Linked DNA regions of Homo sapiens: region 2 is linked to region 1. A link means that fine-mapping ties the variant in region 1 to the plasma level of a protein whose gene starts in the linked region. Region 1 holds a variant in brackets. A gene starts in the other region. All regions are shown on their forward strands.

What was found. PIP is the chance, under the fine-mapping model, that this variant and not a neighbour inherited with it causes the effect. Protein levels are from antibody-based Olink assays in UK Biobank. Linkage for the fine-mapping came from a reference panel and not from the study's own genotypes, which makes the PIPs less certain.
Region 2: it holds the start of PCARE, and the variant in region 1 is fine-mapped to the plasma level of the PCARE protein (UK Biobank, PIP above 0.99).

The regions. Positions count from the first base shown.
Region 1 is chr14:105,902,994-105,905,903 of GRCh38, forward strand. It overlaps IGH, IGHD4-11, IGHD3-10 and IGHD3-9. Among named protein-coding and RNA genes, the nearest start is that of FAM30A, 14 kb to the right of the region's middle. The variant C/T (reference allele first, on the strand shown) is at 1,519.
Region 2 is chr2:29,073,192-29,076,023 of GRCh38, forward strand. It overlaps PCARE (photoreceptor cilium actin regulator), which reads right to left and starts at 1,332. Exons shown (of 2, transcript NM_001029883.3): 1 at 1-1,332. The coding sequence starts at 1,070.

The DNA of each region.
Region 1 (2,910 bases):
GTCCCGGCAGAACTGGGCATGGCTCCTTCTTAGGGGCCTCGAGGACTCTCTCTACAGCTGTACCTGGGGCTGGGGGCTCCACGAGTGGTCTTTTCCAGGTGGGGACGACAATGGCAGGTGTTTCTCTAGTGGCAGGTGAGGGGAACTGTCCAGGGCCTGGCCCTGCGGAACACAGCGGCCTCTCAGAGGAGGGTGTGCGGGAGTCCTGCCTGTTGGGAGCCTGGCGGATGCTGCCTTCTTGATTCCAGCCAGGATGGGAATCCAGGCAATTGGCAGGAGGTACTGGAATGAGGCTGGTGTCTACAGCTATTCAGGGTCCCAGGAATTGGCTGTTGGAATCGGGGCATCTGTCAAGACAGGGTCTGGTATAGCTGGCAGGGAAGGGCCAGGTCACCTGTGGTCATGAGTGAGGTCACCTCAGAGCCCTCTGAAGCCCCTATTTGGAGGAAGATGGTGTGCAGGGCACCAGCCCAGGCTGAGATGGCCCAGGTGTCCCTAGAGGCTGAGGGTCTGGGCACAAATCCTTGGGCCCGGCTCTTGTGCTCCTGGAGAGCTCCAAGCTGAGGCGTGCACACAGCCCCTGGGTTTCCAGCCAGTTTTTGCCACTGGGTTCATCACTATGGTAGTTACTGTAGTCACACAGCAGGAGGGCCCTTCACAAAAAGCCCGAGTGTGGCCAGAGACCTTTCCCACGCAGGCCCTGGTCCAGGCATTTGGGGCCCCTATTGACAGCGGTGCTGCGTCCTGGGGATCTCAGGCCGCTGTGATGCCACTGAGGACTGTCCTGGAAGAGGGTGTCCACTGGGGAGAGAGGCAGGGATTTCTGGAAGGTTCTTTGTCTCTGAATGTGGGAGGCGAGTCCTCTGTTGGCTTCCCCGGTGAGGTCTGGAAATGAGCAGGACTCAGGACGGCCGGGCAGGATGAGCGACGCCCAGCTCCGGCTGTCCCCAGGAATGTCTTCTGTCTTGGAAATGACCCAGGAGAGGCTCAGGTGTCAGGGCCAGGCAGGCCAGGGACCACAGGGGCAGGGACAGTGCACAGGGCCAGCCCCTCCCTCCTGGTGCCCCTACTCAGACATGAGGGCTCTCAGTGTCCACACATGTGGCCCAGCCTTGAGGGAGGGGCTTCTGGGATCGCTGGCCTGATGGCAGCAGATGGTGCTGTGAGGCCGTCCCTGTCCCATTTGGACTGGCGTTGGGAGGGCAGCAGCGATGCAGACCCCTCGGAGCCAGATCTGGATGACCTGTAGGGTGACCTTGGCCATCTGTTTCATGATCTCCAGGGCTGGCAGGCTGGAGCCCAGCGTGGTCAGTCACGGGCCTGTCCATCGTGCCTGCTGCCCTGCGGGTTTGGGTCACAGGCTGCACTGCTGTGGTAGCCACCATACCCATGGTGCTGTCTCCTCGATCAAAATCCTAACATGGCACGTACCGGTCCCCTGCAGGGAGGGCTGTGGCGGGAGGCTCCCAGGGATGGGTTTTTGATGGACTCTGTGACACTGTGGTTATAATAACTCCC[C/T]GAACCATAGTAATACCACAGTGACACAGACCTCACCCCAAACCTACCGCCCAGCCTGGGGAAACCCGGGATGTCCGGGGCTGACCTGAGGAGGCAGCAGGGCCCCATGGGGAGGGCTGTGGCGGGAAGCTTCCAGGCATGGGTTTTTGATGGACTCTGTGACACTGTGGTTATAATAACCAGTCAAAATATCGTAATACCACAGTGACACAGACCTCATTCTAAACCTACCGGCAGGCCTGGGGAAACCTGGGATGTCCAGGGCTGACCGGAGGAGGCAGCAGGGCTCTGAGGGGAGGCTGTGGGCCCAGCGCTCTCAGGTCTGCTGTGGGGACACTCGGGTCTATCCCTCGCTTATGTGGATAGTGTCCGTGCCCACCTGTGTCCTGAGGCTCCACCTCAGGCTGGCATCTGTCCCTATGTCCCTACCCACCCCATGGCCATGTCCTTTCGGGTTCATAAGTTGCCCACAAATCACAGAGTCATCATTCTGGAGATTTTTATATTCCCAGGGCCACCAGCTGCCTCCACCCAGAAAGGTCAGATGTGGGAGACTTCTAGAGTCATTCCCCAACCCTGGATGAGCTTCTGCACCCTCAGTGCTACTCAGGCTCCAGCAAGACCTGGAGCAGGTGCAGGTGAGGCCCGAGGCCAGGTGAGGTCCAGGTCAGGTGAAGCCCAGGCCAGGTGAAGTCCAGGCCAGGTGAGGTCCAGGCCAGATGAGGTCCAGGTCAGGTGAGGCCCAGGCCAGGTGAAGCCCAGGCCAGATGAGGTCCAGGTCAGGGGAAGCCAAGGCCAGGTGAGTTCCAGGACAGGTTAAACCCAGGTCAGGAGACGTTCAGGTGAGTTGAGGCCCAGGTCAGGTAAAGCTTGGGACAGGCGAGGTCCAAGTCAGGTGAGGCCAAGGTCAGGTGAAGCCCAGGTTAAGTGAGGCCCAGGCCAGTGAGGTCCAGGTCAGGGGAGGCTGAGGTGGATGTGTGAGGCGTCTGCAGTTTTCTCTGGGTGCTCACCCTGCCTGGTGTCCCTGCCCCTCCTCTCAGCACCCACTCTGTGCCTGCAAGGTGGTGGCCCGTGCACAGGTGGTGCTGGCTGCGGAGGTGCTGGGCTCTGCCTCCCTGTGCGTGGGCGTCCCTCTCGGGCTCTGCCTGGGGAGTGTGGCTGAGTTGCTTCTCTCTGGAATTCACTGACTGTGCCGTCCTCCGGGATATATGGCCCTGCGCTTGCTCCACATCAGGCCCCAGGAACTGCCAGCAGGTACCCGCCTGCCCTGCTGCACAGTGAGCCTGCAACCTGTCCGGGGATCCCAGGGAGGTGAATGCCACCACACATCAGCCCTTTATCTCTTTAAAGTCGTTTATTTGGGGATACATCATCGATGTCTCATATACTAAA
Region 2 (2,832 bases), not on the chromosome of region 1:
TCATTGTCAGCACCAATGCCACTGTCCTCAGAGCATAAGGGGAGACCCTGCACCCCAGGGTCGCCACAGCCACTCGCCAGGCTCTCTAGCTGCCTCAGAGCCCTCAGGAGGCGTTCATCCACATTCCTTTTTGTGCTCAGCTTATTTTCCAAGTGGGTTGCAGTGGAGTGGAGGTAGCTGCTGGAGCCCTCCAGGAAGCTGCCGGTGAGCGAGGCCACTGTGCCATTGAGCACCTGCAGCTTGCTGACTGTGTACTGTAGCAGCTGTTGCAGGAGATTTGGCTGCTCCTGGGGCTCTCTTTTCTTCAAAGGCCAAGCCAGATCCTCCCTGACTTCCTGCAGGAGCACTTCTCCATCCTTGGAGATCTCCCCCAACAGCTGGCTGATCTCCTCAAAGCACAGCAGCAAGAAGCTGACCATGGGCTGCAGCAGCTCCCGGGTCTGGGTGGCCTGATGGATGATGCACAGAATTGCTTCATATTTGGAGAGGCTGGAGTGTAGATAGGTGTAAGCCTGCTGGTGGGCCTTTACCAGAGGCTCCGGGAAGTCCACTTTGCCTTCAGGCTCATGAGCAGGGTGGATGGTTTGGTAGCAGTGGCTCTGTGTGCTTGACGTGTGACATTTTGCTGTCCTTTTCCATTTGGAAGTATCTTGGGTACTACTTTCCTCACTCTCATCTCCAGAAAAGTCTGCCCCTTGTGATCCATGGGAACCCTGTGTCTTGAACGGAATATCCTTAGCCATGTGGCTTTGTGATTTGTTCAGCTGGGATGAAGAGGTTTTGGTTCCTGGGATCAGTCCTTCCATATCTTTCCTTTTGCCTGAAGCAGGATCTCCCATGAGCTGACAAAGACCTTTAGCTGTGGTTTGGTTCCTCCTGGGACTTGGCTGCTCCTCTGCCAGGCCCTCCCCAGCGTCATAGCAGGTGGAGTTTTTAACCAGCAAAGGGATGGAACCTCTTTCACTTCCGCCCTGACATCCTGGCCGAATTGCTTTGGGCTTTTTCAAGAACTGAATGCCACTCTTTGCAACGCTGTTTACAAGGTCACTGTGTGAAGGTGTACACCCCATGATTTCAGCTTGTAGTCATCTTCCACCCACCTTCACAATTTTCCAAGAATCATATTTGAAATAGGAACAAAAGGCAATCTTACTAGTCCATCCAGGCAATTTTCAGGCCAGAATTCTTTGAAGTCCATGGTACAATATCCTAAACTTGGAACCAGCTTTCTTTATTTTCTTGGTCCAAATGTGAAGAGGGAGTGGTACCTGTCGTCCTGTTGTTGTTCTAAGTTTGGAACCCTCTGCTGTTAGTGAGCAGCGGGACAATTCTGAAGGCTCCCAGCCTGGTGGATTACGGGCCTGTGTTTTGCTCGCGTCCTGACAGATGTGGATAGCAAGTGCAGCTTAAGCCTATTAGGTTAATCATGCCCTAGCCAGTCAGCACTCACAGTGTGTTCTAATATAGAACTTCTCAGCATTTACTATCTTGGGAAGCGGATTATTTTTGCACGTGCTCATGCTTTTAATTCTGTTCAGACGCCTGCCATATGAAACCTAGAGAAATGAGCCATAATTGCAAAGGCTCTGGAAGAGATGCATTTGTGGAAGAGAAGAGAGGGCTCGTTGATTACAGGCCCTGGAAGAGAAGTGACCTTCACGGTTTAATAAGGGCAAACCAGCCAAGTGTGCTCCAATCTGCTGTTATCAAGAAGCCCCCAAAACACACAATAGATAATAATTGAAGTAATGCATTATTGTTTGTGTGGCTTATAAAAACCCCGGGACTCTAGTATAGAGAATGTCTCTAAATAAGATAGTGAATGAAGAAGGCAGGTTGCTTTTCCTTTGCATTAGAAAATTGAGTTAGGTAGCAGGAAAGCTATCCCCCCCAGTTTGGATGGGGACAGCAGGAAAAGTCACTGCCATGTAAAGCTCAAGGCTGGTCACTACGCTCAGGAAGGCAATGCTTTCATGGGAAGAGGCTTCTTATTCAAACTTCTTCATAGGAAAACAAGCTAAAAACTGGGCAGTGGAGAGCCATTTCATTATTAAGAGGAGAACTCAAGGGGAAGCCCATTTTTCTGCTCAAACTGAGCATGGGGCTCCTGCCTGTGGCTAAGGGTAGCAGCTGCCCATTTAAAACCTCCTTTTAAACTTTATTTGCTGTCAGTAAAATCTAGAACAACAGCTTGGCCTAGAAAGACTGGAGTTTGAATCCTGAGTCTTTCTCCTGTTAGTTGAGGAAACTTCTGATAGTTTTTAAGCTTTCCTGAGGCAGAGCTCATCTTTGAAATGAGGACCACGGTACTTACCTCACAGAGCCATTGTGAGGATTGTCAATTAATACTTGGTAAGTGCTTGACCCAAGGTAGGTACTCAAAAACATGCAGTTTCAGCCAGGTGTGGTGACTCAACGCCTATAAATCTCGGCACTTTGGAAGGTTGAGGCAGGCTTATCATTTGAGCTCAGGAGTTTGAGACCAGCCTGAGCAACATGGTGAGGCTGTCTCTACTAAAAATACAAAAAATTAGCTGGGGATGTTGGCACCCACCTGTAATCCCAGCTACTCCGGAGGCTGAGGTGGGAGAATCACCTGAGCCTAGGAAGTTGAGACTGCAGTGAGCTGTAATAGTGCTATTGCAAGCTGGCCTGGACTTTGGAAGTGAGACCCTGTCTTCAAAAAAAAAAAAAAAAAAAAAGTTTCTTACTCCTTTCCCCCTGGAAGCTAGGGCACTTATAATAATGAAAGTCATAAGAATTTCATTGGTTTGCGTTGGTTTATTCCTGAATGGTCTGGAAATAATTGCCTATGATGCACTTAGAGCCCTC